4 linked regions of the Homo sapiens genome follow. The protein of the gene in region 1 purifies or fractionates together with the protein of each later gene. This does not show direct contact. Each region holds a gene or a part of one and is shown on either strand. Other genes may lie near its edges. The genes, in order: NOL8, DDX47, URB1 and DDX51.

Region 1 (4,719 bases):
ATTTTGTCTGTTTCTTTACAACTCTTTGGGTGTGTGTTCCCTCAAAGCCGTAAACAACTTGTCCTCCAAGTGCAGTGGCATTGTCTCCAATGACATCCTCTTCAGCTAACCTAGAGCATATGTCACTGTTGATCATCCCTTCTTGAAATGTTCACTTTGCTTCCAATTGCATCATAACTTCCTGGTTTTCTTAACTCTTTATTCCTAATTTTTCTTTTGCCTCCAAATATGGGTTCTTCCCAGGGTTCTGTAAGTCCCTATAGCTTTAGCCTTCACTTGCACATGAGTATTTTTCAAATTTGGATCTTCTTTCTTCCTTGCTGTTCTGCTGAGCTCCCAACTGGTCTTAAACGCCTGTTGGATATTTTCCACAGGCTTTCCTGAGTTTGTGTTAAAACTCAGCAAGTCCAAACCAGCTCTTCTTAACCTTTCTGCGTTGATGGCGTGTCCATTCTTAGAATCTCTGTTGTTGTTTTTTTCTTTCCTTCTCAACATTTTATTTTTATTTTTTTGGAGACAGGATCTCACTGTGTTCCTCAGGCTGGAGTGCAGTGGCACAGTCATAGCTTACTGTAACCTCAAACTCAGTCTCTCTAGTAGCTAGGACTACAGGCATGTGCCACCATGTCCAGCTAATTTTTGTATTTTCATAGAGACAGGGTCTCGCTGTGTTGCCTAGGCGGGTCTCAAACTCCTGGCCTCAAGTGATCCTCCTGCCTCAGCTTCCCAAAGTGCTGAGATTATAGGCATGGAACCACTGCACCAGACCCCTTCCCAAATTTTGAGGCACAACGTTTTGTCTCAAGTAAGCAGCACAGCCAGCCTATATCACCTTGAGCCTTTTTCAGCATTATAATCTACTTCCCTAATGCTTATTAGATTAAAATTTAAATTGATGTTTTTGATAGTCAAAAGTTGTTGAAATTAGCAGTTTCAACCTAATGCAGTGTAAACTTTTTGTACTTTATTATTTCAATATATGTGTTCGTTTTGTTTCCAACACCTAGCATGCTTTCCTACCACCTCTAGGGATTCAACTCTATCTTTCCTACCTCATAACTTTACCTAGTTTATAAAGCATCTTTTGATTCAGTTAAACACTATCTCAACTTCCTTTGAACCCTTAGAAACTTTGGGGGCATCCCTGTAGAGTACTTAAATTAGCATTTTATTCTAGTTTCTGTTAGTTGGTTATTTATATCCTGCAGTAAGTTGAAAGAGTCATACAGGCTTAGACTACTTTTGTATTTCTGTAATCCAAACTAGCTGTTTAACTTTATTCTGTGATATTTTGTCTGTTTGTAGTAGTTGAGGATAGTAGCTTGTAAAAGTCCATGATGCCTTAGTATGTGTAGGGCATATGGTTTTTTTCCCATAATACTTGTTATTGAATCAAAGACTGAAACAACTATCCACTAATATCTTATATTGTCAGATATACCATTACCATTTTTCACTCTTTATCATTTTTAGATTTACGTAATTTAGATTATGTTTAGAATGTTAAAAAAATCAAAGAGTCTATAATCACTGTAGTTATTAGTATCTTGCTCTATTACATTTGTCGATCTTTACCTTAAAAGTTTTAGACTTGCTACTGAAAGCCATTAAATTCAGACTTTCATAATTAGGAACAGAAGTAGGACTTTTCATTGTCTGGTCACGCAGACTTTCTGAGTTTGCTATGACTGAGGGTCTTTGGTTATGGAGGTTAGTGAAATGAGGTTAAAGTTTCTTCTTCCTGTCTTAATGGATTTTGAACATGTTTAGGTACTTGGTAAATATTTGATGATTGAGACTTCTCAGGCTGTGTTTTCCAAGAGAGTATTAATTATCCCTTTTCCTCAAAGAGGTAAATGAAAAGAAAACTGCTGAGGAAGAAGAGCTTGCTGAAGAAAAAAAGAAAGCCCTGAATGTTGTACAAAGTGTTTTGCAAATCAACTTAAGCAATTCTACAAACAGAGGATCAGTAGCTGCTAAGAAATTTAAGTATGTTTTATGTTCCATCCCATTCTACCATATCATCCTTTGCCATAAATGTCTTCTTGAACTCAATTTAAAACTAGGTCTCTTTTAATGGCCTGGGGAGGCAGCTGGCAATATGTATCAGACCCTTAAAAATATACTTGCCTTTGACCCAGTGATTCACTTCAAGGAACTAATCTTAAATTATTTCTGTATTTATACACTTAGATGTCATAGCAGCATCGCTTTCATTAGTGAAACAAATGGGAAACAGTTTAAATAGTAACTGTAAAAGTATTTATATAAACGTAACTGTTATGGAAATTTTCAGGCATGAAATTTAGAGAGACTAATGAAAGCCCTGTATACCATCATTACCTGTACACCAGGTAATGAAAGCCCTGTACACCATCACCTAGCTTTTACAGTCACCAACATGTGACCAGTGTTCTCTTCTATACCTTTATCCAACCCCTACTTTACACAATGAAATGTTTTATGCAAATCCCAGATAGTATATCATTTTATCTGTATGTATTTTAGTATGTTTAAAATCATTTTAAAAGCTAAAAAAATCCAGGAAATCTCAAAAGTAGGTAGTTTAAAATATTTTTTCGGCTGGGCATGGTGGCTCACACCTGTGATCCTAGCACTTTGGGAGGCTAAGGTGGGCGGATCACCTGAGATCAGGAGTTGGAGAGCAGCCTGGCCAACATGGTGAAACCCCGTCTCTACTAAAAATATAAAAATTAGCCGGGCATGGTGGCACATGCCTGTAATCCCAGCTACTTGGGAGGCTGAGGCAGGAGAATCGCTTGAACTTGGGAGGCGGAGGTTGCAGTGAGCCAAGATCACGCCATTGCACTCCAGCCTGGGCAACACAGCGAGACTCTGTCTCCAAGAAAAATCTATGTATATGTTATTTCTAGTAAGATCCTAGTTATCTTATCTGATGTTATATGGCTTCTTCTTGCTGCAAAATTAGAATCTTCCTAGTGCTGAATTATAATTTGCTACTTACTTTTTGTATTAGTGTTCTGTTTTTATCTCTTCCAACCTCCCTTCCTTTTTTTACATAGGGACATCATACATTATGATCCAACGAAGCAAGACCATGCCACTTACGAAAGAAAAAGAGATGATAAGCCAAAAGAAAGGTAAGTAGAGCTACTTCTTTTAGCAATAGGATCATGTAAATTAATCTCATTTCAGACAATTAAAAATGTAGGTAGGAACCAATATCCTACTCATTGGTCCCACTGTATTAAGATTGGTGGGGTAGGGGTAGTGCAGGTAGAGTTAGAAAGGAATTATTGATGTGGTGGAGGAGGTCTTACCTTTTAACAGAGGAATCTATAAATGATATGTACTCCTATCATTTATACCTTTTATTTGTATAAATGATGCCTTTTATTTGTACTAGTTTCTTGTGTCTTCTGTAGCTACCACAAACTTAGTTACTTAAAATCACAAAAATTATTTCTTTACAGTTCTGGAACCTAGAAGTCCCAAATTAAGATAGTGAACAGGTTATGTTCCTTCTAGAGGTTCAGGGAAACAAAGCTGTTTTATGCCTCTCCTAGTTTCTAGTGACTGCCACCAATCCTTTGGTGTTCCTTGGCTTGAGACTACATTACTCCCATTTCTGCCTCTATCTTCACATGGCCTCTTCTTTTCTGTCTCTCCTCTTTGTGCCTCTTATAAGGACACTTGTGATAGCATTCAGGGCCCACTTGGATAATCCTGGATGGGCTCCTCATCCTAGGACCCTTAACTTAATATCTCTGCAAGACCCCTTATCTAAATAATGTTAACATTCACAGGTTTCAGGAATTAGGACATGGACATAGCTTTTGGGGGGCAACCATTCAACCATCTAGTGTGGTAGGAGCTTCTGTTTCCTATAGATGTGCAGTCAGTTGGATAAACATGGCAAATATATGGAGCAACCAGTAGCAGCTTGGTTTAAATCCTTCATTTTCCAACTGCTAATAGCCACGAAAATCACAAAAGGCAGTGTGGTATCCTGAATTGAATCTTGAAACAACAGGACAATTTGTGGAGAAACTAGTGAAATCAAAACAATGTCTGAGTTTAGTTAGTGGTAATCTACCAATGTTAATCTTCTAATTTTGACAATTATATCCTAGTTACATACACACATAATTACATTAGGGAAAACAAAGTGAAGGCTATTTAGGAACTCTACTATTTTCGTTACTTTCTGTAAACCTAAAATTGTTCCAAAATTATTCTTTTAAAAAGAATCACATTTTAGACTAAAGTAGAATATTAATATTCCCTCCAATGTAGGATATATGTGTGTTATTTCAGATAATCCGTATTGAACAAATAGGATATGTTTACCCCCTCCCTATACCCCTAAGAAGTCTCATCCCTTTACATCAGCTCAAAATCCAGGATGTCATCATTCAGATCAGATCTAAGTACAGATGAGGCTTCTCTGTTATTCCTTGAGTACAGTACCTTGAGTGCAGTTCTGTTTGATAAGACCTATGAACTAAAAAAGCAAGTTATCTACCCTTCCTCCAATATAGAGCGGTGGAACAGGCATTGGATAACCACTATAGGTACTGTTCAATGAAAGAAAACAGGCACAAAGGAGTCACATGTCCATAGTAACTCTGAAATCTAGACAGACAAATGTTGGAAGGTCTTTGATTAGGACTGAGGGCCTAGGAATAATTCTTCCTGACCGTTGACTTGGCTTTCTGGATCATCCTTCTCTTTTCA
Region 2 (4,719 bases), on another chromosome or scaffold:
TAGAGCAACACTTCAAAGCCCATAAAATTACAACAATTATGGAAACAGGCATCGGTGCCCTATGGCCTTATTGTACAAACCTACTGTTAGGAGGTTTATCTCGCTCACGCCACCAGTGCATGGCTGATGATGATGATGAATCCTTACCTGACTCATTTGTCCATGGAGGGGGATGGCAGTGAAGCCAAGATTTCGCAGTAGCAAAGCTGTTCTCTGGGTATTATTACAGGTGCTGCAGAATATCATAAAGGAGTTTCCAGCCAATTCATTTAGAATATAAACCAGGTAGGTATCCTAAGTTACAAACCCAAAACAATATATGTCATTGAACCTGGGAGACAGGATTGGAGACCTGGCATATACATAAGGTAAAGACTAAGCCTATAGTCGCTTTTCAATTATCCAGACCTCCAGCTGCCAGCTTTGCATTCCTTAACCAGCATTATCATCTCTGTGAACCACATATTCCCCACTTAGCCTTAAGGCAGGCAGGAGATCTGTACTCAGCAAACAGGAGAAGTCCTTATATCAAAGCACAAAACCAGGGGCTTCATCCTAAATAAAAGCCACATAATAAGCAGACAAAGGAAAAATTACCTCAAGGATGGGGATGGGAAGGAATTATATGATTACATCATGACCTCAGTATTGTGATTTAATGTGTTGTGAATTCCTGGCATGTCTGGCTTATCGGTGATAATATAAGCACGATATGCACTCTAAAGCAAACAGACAGGATGCCAATCTGCATTACAGCTCTTACCTAATCAAGAGTTGACACATTTTCAGATGCTTTGGTGAAAAGAAGAGGGAGAGGCAGGAATGATCAAAGTAAACATTTTACCTTGAATTTAGAGGGAATAAAAATATAATATTGCTGTAATTTTTCAACTGTCTGGTATTTAGAGGAAACGGCACATTTCACAGGATTCTTCAGAGCTGCTCGCTGAAGTTTTTGAACCTGAAGGAAGAAGATCCAGAATAGCACACTGATGCCTAAACACTCTTTATTTATGACATGGTTTGGCTCTGTGTCCTCACCCAAATCTCATGTTGAATTGTAATCCCCACATGTCACGGGAGGGACCTGGTGGGAGGTTATTGGATCACAGAGGTGGTTTTCCCCATTGCGGTTCTCATGATAGTGAGTTCTCACAATTTCTCATGGTTTTAAAGTGTGGCACTGCCCCCACCTCCTGCCTTGCTTCCCCTTCACCTTCTGCCATAATTGTAAGTTTCCTGAGGTCTTCCCAGCCATGTGGAACTGTGAGTCAATTAAACCTCTTTTCTGTATAAATTACCTAGTCTCAGATAGTTCTTTATAGCAGTGTGAAAACGGACTAAAGCAATTTATTTTTCCTTATTGTTATTACTATTTACTTTATGTATCAATTCTCATAAAGAAGAAACAAAAGTCCTAGCAAATTTCACCTTCTTGGTCATGGTGGCAGAGAAGAGGAATGTTTTCCGATCTCGAGGAATCACTTTGAGGATCTTGTCAACCTAAAGCACAAAGAGGAAAAGATGCCAATATGATATTCAGACTGGAAGAGCTGCAAATCCTCTAGGTAGTGAAGGAGGTAGACACTAACAAACTAAATATATCACTGTGAAGATTTGGGACTCGAAAATTCAATTTGATTCAGCTAAAGTTTACTGAATATTTACTATCTGATACCCTACCAAATACTATTAAAAAAAATACCTTTCTGAGAAAAGAACAGTTTAAATTAGTAGACCAGAGCTGATTTAAGAGAAAAGTCAAGAAAAAGTATTAATCAACTAAGTAAGCTGGGATTAGTGGGTCATCAAAGAAAATAAAGATATTTCAGGGTGTATGTCAAGGTCTAAATTAAACGAAAGGGAAAAGAAAATCCGGTTTTGATATTTCCCATTTCTGAAGTCAGAGTCAGACTATATTCTAAAGATAAAAGGGTGCTGAGAAACTGCAATTTGAAGAATATCAAGAATGAAACTGATACTAATGCAATGTTCTACATGAAACAAGTGGGCAATGAACCAAATTTTGAAACAGGAACCTTGAGATGCTCTAAGAGGAGGAAAGAAATTGAGAGCTCACCTCTGTCTCAAAATCCATATTCAGTATTCGGTCGGCTTCATCCATGACCAAGTATTTGAGAGCTCTCAAGTTGAAACCTTTCGTATTTTCCAAGTGGTCAATCAGTCGACCAGGAGTTGCTACCAAGAAAGGTTGAGGAGAAACAGTGACATTTCAGAACAGGACAAAAAAAAAACAAAACAAATAAACAAATAAAGTTATCTGCCCCACCCCACAGCTCTCCACCAAATTTAACTTAAGAAATTAAAAAATTTAACAGGGTTACAAAATCTGTTTCTCAAAGTCTTTCTATCCAACACTGGTAGATTTTCTCCAATTCATCACTGCCAGTGTCTTTTACCTTTGTCAGTTACTCACCTATTATTATATGTGGTTTTTTTGCAAGGGCCAAAGATTGAGACATTGAATCAATTCCACCTACAATCACAGCTACAGAGAAAAAAAGAACATAGAGACGAGATCCTTAATTTTTTCCACAGTCCACTGAACATCTTTTAAAGCCAATGCCAGATTTCTACTTAGATTTGTTCTTCCCTTACAATTAATACTCTTCCCAAAGCTCAAATACAACATTAGCTCTTTAGGTCAATAAATTATGCTAGCAATACTTTCCTCCATTCTCCTTCCTCCACACTCATTCTTCACTTGTGATGGCAACCTAGGATCCCTTCCCTCTCAGACACTTACCACTCTGCACTCCAATAGAGGACCCCAGGGCTTCAAACTGCTCTGAGATCTGAAAGGCCAGCTCCCGAGTCGGGGTAAGAACTAGGGCAAACAAACGCTGCGGGGTCTCCAGCAGTGCGTTTAGAATGGGCAAAGCAAAGGCGCCTGTCTTTCCAGAGCCAGTTTCTGCAAGCCCAATGATATCACGACCTAAAAGAAAAAGAAATTCAACAGCCAAGTAATCTCTTTGCGCTATTTCTGTGTTTTCTACAATGACACAATGCTGGGCACAAAGTAGACGCTTAATAAATATCTGATGAACTGGGGAGAGAGGAAAGTTGAATAAACAGAAAAGACATGGCCTCTCTCTTAGATAAGCTCAAAACCCAGTGGTGAGACAGACAAATATACAAATGCATTATAATGTGATAAGAGTTTTAATATAAGCCCCTGCAAAATACAGCGAGAACACAAGGAAAAGTAACTACTGCCCAGAAGAGTCAGAAAAGGCTAACAGAGGTGATAAGTGAGTTAAAACTGGAAGTAAGCAAAGAAGGGAAGAAAGGATATTCCTGTAAGAGGAAAGAGAATTAAGGCTTTAGAGAACATAGCATGCTGGCTGGGCATGGTAGCTCACGCCTGTAACCCCAGCAGTTTGGGAGGCCGAGCCAGGCAGATCACCTGAGGTTGGGAGTTCGAGACCAGTCTGACCAACAAGGAAAAACCCTGTCTCTACTAAAAATACAAAATTAGGCGGGCATGGTGGTGCATGCCTGTAATCCCAGCTACTCGGAAGGCTGAGGCAGGAGTATTGCTTGAACCCGGGAGGCGGAGGTTGCGGCAGCGGTGAGCGGAGATCGTGCCACTGCACTCCAGCCTGGGCAACAAGAGCGAAACTCCATCTCAAAAAATAAAAAGAACATAGCATGCATAGTTAGGCTGAGAAGTACAATGTGGCTGGAACACAGAAGTGTTAAGGGAGAAAGAGGGAAGAATGAGGCTAGAGTTTTGATGTTTTCCTATAAGAAAGAATTAAAGGATTTTAAACAGGGAATATCATGATCAATATTACTGTTTAGGAAGATAAACTCTAGACCTGATGGCATAAGGAGGAGCCAAGGAACTTAACAGTGCATGCCAGTTACTGCTCCTTCTGAGGGAAGAATGCTCTAAGTAATTCTTTAAGAACAGGTCACCACTGTTTGCTATCACCACTCAAGCCACAACTCATAAGACTTGGAAATTAACTCCTGAGTTGAGATCACTATCTCCGAGCTGGCTGTAGCCCATGAGGTAGCTATGCACTACCACAGTGGCCAGTGAGAATGCTCCCTATTAAATCATGACCCCTACAGTTGCTGCCCCTGTTCTGACTGTGTAACTGCTGAGAAGTTTTCTTTACCTAGAAGATAATCCTACAATAAACAAATCTCTTTTCCCTGACATAACCTGAACATGACTTACAATCAGAAATGACTTAAATGACCAGAACAGGGAAAACAAAGGCTTAACTGGGACATTGGATGTAATTCAGGGGAGATATGATGGTGGCCTGAACTGAGGCCAGGAATGAGCACAGGAATGAGATTCAGAAACTAACAAAAGGAAATGTGGGTGACTCACACATTTTTAGTACGGGACACTCAAAAGCCAAAAACTGCAATATAGGCAACAGAAAAATTAGTCCTGGTGAGGAAAATAAGGACTTTGGTTTCCACACAGGGAACTTGGAACTTAAGATTCCTATAGTAAACTCAAAGAGATATGTCTAAAAACCAGTTGGACATACTTGTTTAGAGATATGTCTAAAAACCAGTTGGGCATAATTATTTGGAGGTATGTCTAAAAACCAGCTGGACATACTTGTTTGGAGCTCAGGAAAAAAGTGGGGGTTAGAACAGACATGGGAGCCATGAGTATCCTACCACTGGTACTTCCTCAGGGGCAGATGCTTCAGAATAATCGATGAGACT
Region 3 (4,719 bases), on another chromosome or scaffold:
AAGCCCTAAAAAGACAGTATTTGGAGATATAGTCTTTTAGGAGATAACTCAGGTTAAGTGAGTTCATGAGGGTGAGGTCCTGATCTAACAGGACTGGTGTCCTTAGAGGAGAAGGAGACATCAGAGAGCTCCCTCTCTGCATGTGGATAGAGGAAAGGCCATGTGAGGACACAGCAAGAGGGCAGTTGTCTGCAAGCCAGGACGTGCCCTTACCAGGATGTGACTATGCCAATGCCTTGATCGCGGACGTGGCCTTCAGAACTGTGAGGAAATAAATTCCTCTTGTTTAAGCCACCCAGTCTATGGTATTTTGTTATGGCTGCCCTAGTAGATTAATCCACAAGGACATTATGAACACACTTAGAAACCATGAAGGCAATAAGGAATGAGACAAACTGAGTGCCAATGTGACTCCCAGGTTTGACTACTGAGTCTGGCAATGACTCGTCTGGATCCCCATAGAGCTTTTGTTCCCTCAACTGTAGAATGGGTATAACAAGAAAAACCATATAGAGCATGGTAACGAAACATTACCAAGAGCTTTACTTACATGACATCAGCTAATTCTCACTGCAACCCTCCACCCTAGGTATGAGTATTTTTTTCCCTAGGTACTAGTATTTCACAGATGAGAAAACTGAGGCCCTTGTCCAAAGGTACACAGCTTAGGAGAGGTAGAGCCAGGACTCCAATCCAGGCAGTCGGGCTCCAGAGCCCATATTCTCCCTCCACGAACTGGATGATTCCTGCTCATGCAATGGAGCTGATGCCTGTTGCTCTGAGTGCACTGGCACACAGAGTGTCCGTGCTGCACCTGGCCCACAGTCAGTATGCCAAGCATCAGTTGACATCAGTGCTCTTTCAAAACCCAAAGGAGGGCACCCCACTAGAGTGTTTCCCCATAAGGCCACCCCAGAAGTTCCCCACTCAAAAATCTCCCCTCTCAACAGCCTGAGGATTCTACTACCCTTCCTGCAATTAATACAACCTCCCCTCCCCTACCACTGACACCTGAATCTGAACCCCCACCACAACCCCACCCTACCAACTGGGAGCCACCTGTGTGCCGCTGCCCACAGAATTCTCCTGCCAGAACCTGTTCTATAAAACTGCCTTTCAGAGAATCACTTGAACCTGCCTCTCGGAGAATCACTTGAATCCGGGAGGTGGAAGTTGCAGTGAGTCGAGATCGTGCCACTGCACTCTAGCCTGGCAACAGAGTGAGACTCCGTCTCAAAAACAAAACAAAACAAAAAAAACCCTGCCTCTCTCTGGTTCCACTCTTTGGGCCATACTTCTCAAAACTAGGAAGGCAGGGCATGGCAGTGGGTTGGAAGCCGCATGAGAGCGTAAGCTAAAGGTAACACATCTTACTGAGGCCTTCATCTCTTCTGGGGAGTGAAGACTTCACCTTATTCAAAAAAAAAAAAAAAAAAAGCAGAGGAAGGGACTAAATATTTCTATTAAAACCCACTTAGTAATGACCAATACAGTAAAATGTAAAATGCCACAAACTTTAAGAAATACACTACAGTCTTCATAGACACATCAGAATAGCGTGGTCTGCTTTAGGGAGTGTCTGGGCATCCCTAAGGGGTCCTTCCTTCTCTGCCTTGGGGCCACAGGCAATGGATCTAATCCTTCTTTCCCACACCAGCTGCCATCACCCTAGTCAGCACCTCTGAACACCAAACACTTCCTTTAACCTCTCTCCAGAAATGAGAGTTTCGAGATCCTTCTGTGTTCAGGTCACTCTCTATGTTCCCTTGAAGCATGAGGCCCAGAACAGGGCTTGGTACTGCAGGTGAGCTCCACTAGCTGAGCAGAGAGGACCAACACATGCTTCCTCTTGGACAGCAATTCTGCGTGTCTCAGATTCAAGTCCTGACGCTGCTAAGCCACATCTGCCGGGGACGCATGAGCACGCCATTACACCAAAAACATACCAGAAAAGAACAAAATTGGAGCCAGACTCCTGGGCACAAATCCCCGCTCAGTCACTTACTAGCTGCATGGTACTCAGTAAGGCACTGAACTCTGAGCTCTGGGTACCTCACCTGTATAACGGAACAAGAACAGAACCTACCTGACAGGGTTTGTATGAAGCGTAAAAAGGCTAATTTACACATAAAGCATCCAGCATCACACTTAGGTCAAGGTAAACCCTCAAAACATAAGCAGCCCCCCGGGTGTCCTCAGCAGCAGCAGTGAAAATCCAGTCACATTCGGCCTCTGCCAGCCTCACAGGTGTTTTCAGATCCCCTTTTATGCTGCAACATTTTCCGCAGCAACCACCGCCATTCCTTTAACAGTCACTGAGCAAGTGCATCTGCTATGCCAGGCGCTGCTCTGAGCTTCGGGGCCAGACTCCATTGCTGCCGTCTGCAGCGTGGTCTGGTGGTGATTATGAGCAGGCCATGGGTGTTCTGACCAAGGTGACTGTGAGTTACAGGAGCTCAGTCGGCACAGGCACCCTGGAGTTATGCATACCTACTCTGTCCCTCAAGAAAACACAGAATGCAAGTGATAGCAAGGGCTGTTAATACAGAAAGAGCAGTGCAACTACTCACTCTTTTTTAAGGAATTATTCGTCAAACTCTAGCATGTAACTCTGAGCATTCCAGAGTATTACAGGGTGGAAACTGCTGGCCTGTTATGTTTGCCGTCTTTACAGGTTCATCTTTCCATACACCATTTACTGGGCACCTACCAGGTGCACCTACAGGGGGTGCCCGAGACGTGCTGATGAGCAAATTAGAAATGGCCTCTACCCACATGGTCCTTACAATCTAATGATAGAGACCAATGTGAGTATTTATTAAGCACCTACCGCAATCACTTACATAGACACGTATAGCACCTGTAGTAAGTGCTATGAAGCAAACATCAAGAGTATAATGAGGACTGTACCTAGGGAACATGATCTAGATTAGAGGGTTGGGAAGGTTTCCTTTGAAGAAGTAATGCTGAACCTATTATTAATAATAGTAAACGTAAGTATTGAGGGGGCAGAGGGTGAGACCACATTCCAGGCCCCAAGGCTGGAGGGTACACTGGAGCCAGGTGAGTGGGGAGGGGTGACTGAGTGAGTGGGGGAGGGCAGCCTGAGATGAAGTCAAAGAAGCAGGCAGGGCTAGATGAAGCAATGGAAATGACTTTGGATTTTATCCTAAGGGCAGTGGGATACCACTGAAGGGTGTCATGAGAGGAGTGACATAATCAGATTTGGAGCTCTGAAGGATCATTTGACTGCTGCACACAGCACGGGCTGCAGGGAAGCAACAGCAAGAGAGACCAACTCTGGGCAACTCCAGCCACGGTCCCAGCAGGGACTGATGATGCCTGGACTAGAATGATGATGAAGGAAAGAGGGGGAGCAGACAGATTCCAGAAATTCTCAGGAGGAGAATCAACCACCAAGGCCAGGGGACAGACTGATGCAGACGGAGGGTTCTGGCAGGAACATCCAGCTAATCAGAATTACCACTTATGCAGTGGGGAAACCAGAAGCAATGTGGGGAGAAGGAGATCAAGAGTTTAACCATTAGTGTACTCTCTTACAGTATGGCCTTTTCTCTATCACCAGTGGAGTCGTGGGCAAACACTTTCAAAGGAACTGGCTTAGAGCCAAACCCTTCTTGATGGGGGATCTTCCCACAGGCTGACACTGATCCACTCTGGAATATCCTCAGTCCTTACCAATCTAACCTGGCAGCTCTTGTTCCTCCACTACACGAAGGGAGCATCATCAGAACCCTTCCCTCACATGCCTGGTGAAAACAAAGTCTCCTAACAGCCATCAACTTCACTTCCCTGATCTTCCAGCAATCCTATCATAGGTTATGAGAGCGTATAAAGAGGAAGAGAGGAGGAGAGAATCCAAGATACAGACCAGATTCAAACACAAGTTCAACACAGCCTCAAACAAGGGATCCACACTTTCACCCATTGACTCAGCTTTGCCCCATCTTTCAACTACTCACCTACACCCATGCCCTGTCAACCTGGGTCTCCTTCTGACATGTGTTCAAATGATGTAGCACCTGAATGTCATGAGGCTCTCTGTGCAAGACCATGAAATATAGATACTACATCTTTTTAACAATTAAACGTGCTCTTTCTTCTGCCAGTAAGGTTCCTGTCCCTGTCCCATCCTACAATCCTTTTGAAAAGCCACTTCCTCTGATGGCCAGTGATGATGAGCATTTTTTCATGTGTCTTTTGGCTGCATAAATGTCTTCTTTTGAGAAGTGTCTGTTCATATCCTTTGCCCACTTTTTGATGGGGTTTTTTTTTTTCTTGTAAATTTGTTTGAGTTCATTGTAGATTCTGGATATTAGCCCTTTGTCAGATGAGTAGATTGCAAAAATTTTCTCCCATTCTGTAGGTCGCCTGTTCACTCTGATGGTAGTTTCTTTTGCTGTGCACAAGCTCTTTAGTTTAATTAGATCCATCAGAGAAATGCAAATCAAAACCACAATGAGATACCATCTCACACCAATTAGAATGGCGATCATTAAAAAGTCAGGAAACAACAGGTGCTGGAGAGGATGTGGAGAAATGGGAACACTTTTACACTGTTGGTGGGACTGTAAACTAGTTCAACCATTGTGGAAGTCAGTGTGGCGATTCCTCAGGGATCTAGAACTAGAAATACCATTTGACCCAGTCATCCCATTACTGGGTATATACCCAAAGGATTATAAATCATACTGCTAT
Region 4 (3,832 bases), on another chromosome or scaffold:
CCCACGGTGCCCGCTCCTCCCACCTCCCGAGTGTGCCCCGGTGCCCGCTCCTCCCACCTCCCGAGTGTGCCCACGGTGCCCGCTACCTCCCACCTCCCCGAGTGTGCCCACGGTGCCCGCTACCTCCCACCTCCCGAGTGTGCCCACGGTGCCCGCTACCTCCCACCTCCCGAGTGTGCCCACGGTGCCCACTCCTCCCACCTCCCCGAGTGTGCCCACGGTGCCCGCTCCTCCCACCTCCCGAGTGTGCCCCGGTGCCCGCTCCTCCCACCTCCCGAGTGTGCCCACGGTGCCCACTCCTCCCACCTCCCGAGTGTGCCCACGGTGCCCGCTCCTCCCACCTCCCCGAGTGTGCCCACGGTGCCCGCTCCTCCCACCTCCCCGAGTGTGCCCACGGTGCCCGCTCCTCCCACCTCCCCGAGTGTGCCCACGGTGCCCGCTCCTCCCACCTCCCGAGTGTGCCCCGGTGCCCGCTCCTCCCACCTCCCGAGTGTGCCCCGGTGCCCGCTCCTCCCACCTCCCGAGTGTGCCCCGGTGCCCGCTCCTCCCACCTCCCGAGTGTGCCCACGGTGCCCGCTCCTCCCACCTCCCGAGTGTGCCCCGGTGCCCGCTCCTCCCACCTCCCGAGTGTGCCCCGGTGCCCGCTCCTCCCACCTCCCGAGTGTGCCCACGGTGCCCGCTCCTCCCACCTCCCCGAGTGTGCCCACGGTGCCCGCTCCTCCCACCTCCCGAGTGTGCCCCGGTGCCCGCTCCTCCCACCTCCCCGAGTGTGCCCACGGTGCCCGCTCCTCCCACCTCCCCGAGTGTGCCCACGGTGCCCGCTCCTCCCACCTCCCCGAGTGTGCCCACGGTGCCCGCTCCTCCCACCTCCCCGAGTGTGCCCACGGTGCCCGCTCCTCCCACCTCCCGAGTGTGCCCCGGTGCCCGCTCCTCCCACCTCCCGAGTGTGCCCACGGTGCCCGCTCCTCCCACCTCCCCGAGTGTGCCCACGGTGCCCGCTACCTCCCACCTCCCGAGTGTGCCCACGGTGCCCGCTCCTCCCACCTCCCGAGTGTGCCCACGGTGCCCGCTCCTCCCACCTCCCCGAGTGTGCCCACGGTGCCCGCTCCTCCCACCTCCCGAGTGTGTGGCCAGGCCCACATCTTATGTCTGCGAACCCAGCAGCACTGAGCCACTATCAATCCCCGATAAATGGCAATCATCGTGAAGCAGCCTTGTGGTCTGGGGTAAATACCAAGGTTCTTGGTCTCATGGCCAAGGAGATCGAGGTCGCAGACAGACACACACACACACAGTGAGTTTGGAGCAGAAGTTTAATAAGCAAAAAGGAAGAAGAGCTCTCCGTTGCAGAGGGGGCCTGAGCGGGTTGCTAAGTTGTAGTAAAGATGTCAAGGTTTCTTTTTTTTCTGTCGCCAGGCTGCAGTGCAGTGGGCTGATCTTGGCCCACTGCAACCTCCACCTCCCGGGCAAGTGATTCTCCTGCCTCAGCCTCTTGAGTAGTTGGGACTCCAGGCACACGCCACCACGCTCAGCTAAGTTTTGTATTTTTAGTAGAGATGGGGTTTCACCATGTTGGCCAGGATGGTCTCGATCTCCTGACCTCAGGTGATGCGCCTGCCTCAGCCTCCCAAAGTGCTGGGATTACAGGTGTGAGCCACCGTGCCCGGCCTGTCAAGGTTTTTACAAATGGGCTAGTGACGAGGGGTTAGAGGAGGGATGTCTTGTCCTCCCAGGGCCCAGGGTTTTAGCTGGGACAAGGTGTGCTATTTGTATAGAGAGTTTCTGTCAGACTCAGTCTGTGCTGCTCTGTGACACTTTTCTGCGAGGGTCTCTGGGTCTGCTCCCAGACATCTTCTTGGGGTTACAGGCACCCCTCAGTCTGCTTTTAGCTTCCCTTAGTGCACCTAAGGGGACGGGAATGTGCTTATTAGGGTCCACTGTTTTACTGGGGCCCATTGTGGAAGTGTGAAGTTTGGTGATCACCCAGGAGACACCCCCCGCACTCCTGTGCCCGAGCTGTCTCATCTGTGATTCACAGTCTGCTCTTTCTGGCTGCTTGTCGTGAGAAGTGATTTTGAACCCCGAGGTTAGAAAGGGAGCTATTTTTGAGCTGCTTTTTGTTAAAAGGCAAATTTTCTGCTGGGGACTGGCTTTACCCCGTCTACCTAAATCATTTCTTTCTGCCTCCTGTAACAGTCGCCTTTTGTGTTCTGCTGGCATTTGTTTGAACACAGTCCACAGGTTCAGTGGTTGCATCTCTAATCAGCTGCCAGTCCCCATCCCAGACATTCTTTGCATCTAAGCTGAGGTCTGAACTGAGTGGGGTGGGCTGGTGTTTCCATCCTCACAACTCCAGTGAGCCGGGTGTGGCCGTGGCCTGCGTCTCCCTGGCGGTTAGTGATGTTGGCATCATCCACCTTTTTCAAACAAAGCACTGGACTGAGAGAATTCACACACTGTATCCACCCAGTCCATGGTTTTTAGTAAAAGGTTTATAGAGGTGAGCAGCCATCACCACACACAACCTAAGAACATTTTCATCATCCCCAAAACAAACCCACACACTGGCCACTGTGTCCCCAGCCCCAACCCCCACCAACTCCCGGCCCCGGCACCCTTCAATCTCTGGCTGTGCCTGGGACACTCCCTATAGCCGGAGCCTTCCTTCAGTTAGCGTCAGGTTCCGGGTTCATCCACGGGGTGCCTATGCTGGTGCCTCACTCCTTTTTCTCTCCTGGTGTGGATTTCCCACGTTTTATTCTCCATTCATCAGCTGACGGACATGTGGTTTCTAGTTTTTGGCTACTGTGAACAGTGCTGCTGAGAGATTTGTGTACGTTTCTGTGTGGATGTAGGTTTCATTGATCTGGGGTGTACAAGGTGCATAGGAGAGGAAGTGCTGGGTCATGAGTGACTCTGTGTTTAACGCCCCAAGGCTTTGCCCAGCTGTCTCCACGTGACCTTCCCACCAGCAATATGTGAGGTGTCCACTGAACAGTCACAAGGTTCACAAATCTGGGGAGGAGAGCTTTTTTTTTGACGGAGTCTCACTCTGTTGCCCAGGCTGGAGTGCAGTGGCGCAGTCTCCGCTCACTGCAAGCTCCGCCTCCCGGGTTCACGCCATTCTCCTGCCTCAGCCTCCCGAGTAGCTGGGACTATAGGTGCCCGCCACCACGCCCGGCTAGTTGTTTTTTTTTTTTTTTTGTATTTTTAGTAGAGACGGGGTTTCACCATGTTAGCAATGATGGTCTCTATCTCCTGACCTTGTGATCCACCTGCCTCGGCCTCCCAAAGTGCTGGGATTACAGGCATTTGCCACCGCGCCCGGCAATTTTTTTTTTTGAGACGGAGTTTTGCTCTTGTTGCCCAGGCTGGAGTGCAGTGGCGCAATCTCAGCTCACTGCAACCTCCACCTCCCGGGTTCAAGCCATTTTCCTGCCTCAGCCTCCCAAGTAGCTGGATTACAGGCATGCACCACCACGCCTGGCTAATTTTGTATTTTTAGTAGAGACAGGGTTTCTCCATGTTGGTCAGGCTGGTCTCGAACTCGTGACCTCAGGTGATCCACCCGCCTTGGCCTCCCAAAGTGCTGGAATTACAGGCATGAGCCACCATGCCTGGCCAAGAGCTTGATTTTTAACATTAGCTCAAGGTTAATGCCCCCAACTCTCAGCAAAAGCATGACGGGTGCCCGCGTCCGTCTGGGAGTACTTTTCACCGTTTTACTAAGGCTTCATTGCCCGCAGCCATCCTGACCTCCACACTCTGAAAGTGACAAGCCCTGAAGTCTCCAGTCGGGGCAGGTGCTTGAGCTCTGACGCCCGGGCTGCCT

The links.
Region 2: the proteins of NOL8 (region 1) and DDX47 purify together in Homo sapiens (affinity purification with mass spectrometry; one large-scale study listed by BioGRID and IntAct). This does not show direct contact.
Region 3: the proteins of NOL8 (region 1) and URB1 purify together in Homo sapiens (affinity purification with mass spectrometry; 2 studies listed by BioGRID and IntAct, with this or other methods). This does not show direct contact.
Region 4: the proteins of NOL8 (region 1) and DDX51 purify together in Homo sapiens (affinity purification with mass spectrometry; 2 studies listed by BioGRID and IntAct, with this or other methods). This does not show direct contact.

What each region holds. Positions count from the first base shown.
Region 1 is NC_000009.12:92,304,156-92,308,874, reverse strand, and holds part of NOL8 (nucleolar protein 8), read left to right. Parts: intron 1-1,850; coding exon 1,851-1,989; intron 1,990-3,044; coding exon 3,045-3,122; coding exon of another isoform or gene 3,123-3,126; exon of another isoform or gene 3,127-3,127; intron 3,128-4,719. UniProt on the Homo sapiens protein: Plays an essential role in the survival of diffuse-type gastric cancer cells. Acts as a nucleolar anchoring protein for DDX47. May be involved in regulation of gene expression at the post-transcriptional level or in ribosome biogenesis in cancer cells.
Region 2 is NC_000012.12:12,819,445-12,824,163, reverse strand, and holds part of DDX47 (probable ATP-dependent RNA helicase DDX47), read right to left. Parts: intron 2,957-4,719; coding exon 2,768-2,956; intron 2,510-2,767; coding exon 2,438-2,509; intron 2,200-2,437; coding exon 2,081-2,199; intron 1,504-2,080; coding exon 1,432-1,503; intron 962-1,431; coding exon 845-961; intron 295-844; coding exon 148-294; intron 1-147. UniProt on the Homo sapiens protein: Required for efficient ribosome biogenesis. May have a role in mRNA splicing. Involved in apoptosis.
Region 3 is NC_000021.9:32,386,183-32,390,901, forward strand, and holds part of URB1 (nucleolar pre-ribosomal-associated protein 1), read right to left. Parts: intron 1-4,719.
Region 4 is NC_000012.12:132,135,295-132,139,126, forward strand, and holds the end of DDX51 (ATP-dependent RNA helicase DDX51), read right to left. Parts: 3' UTR 1,300-3,832; downstream 1-1,299. UniProt on the Homo sapiens protein: ATP-binding RNA helicase involved in the biogenesis of 60S ribosomal subunits.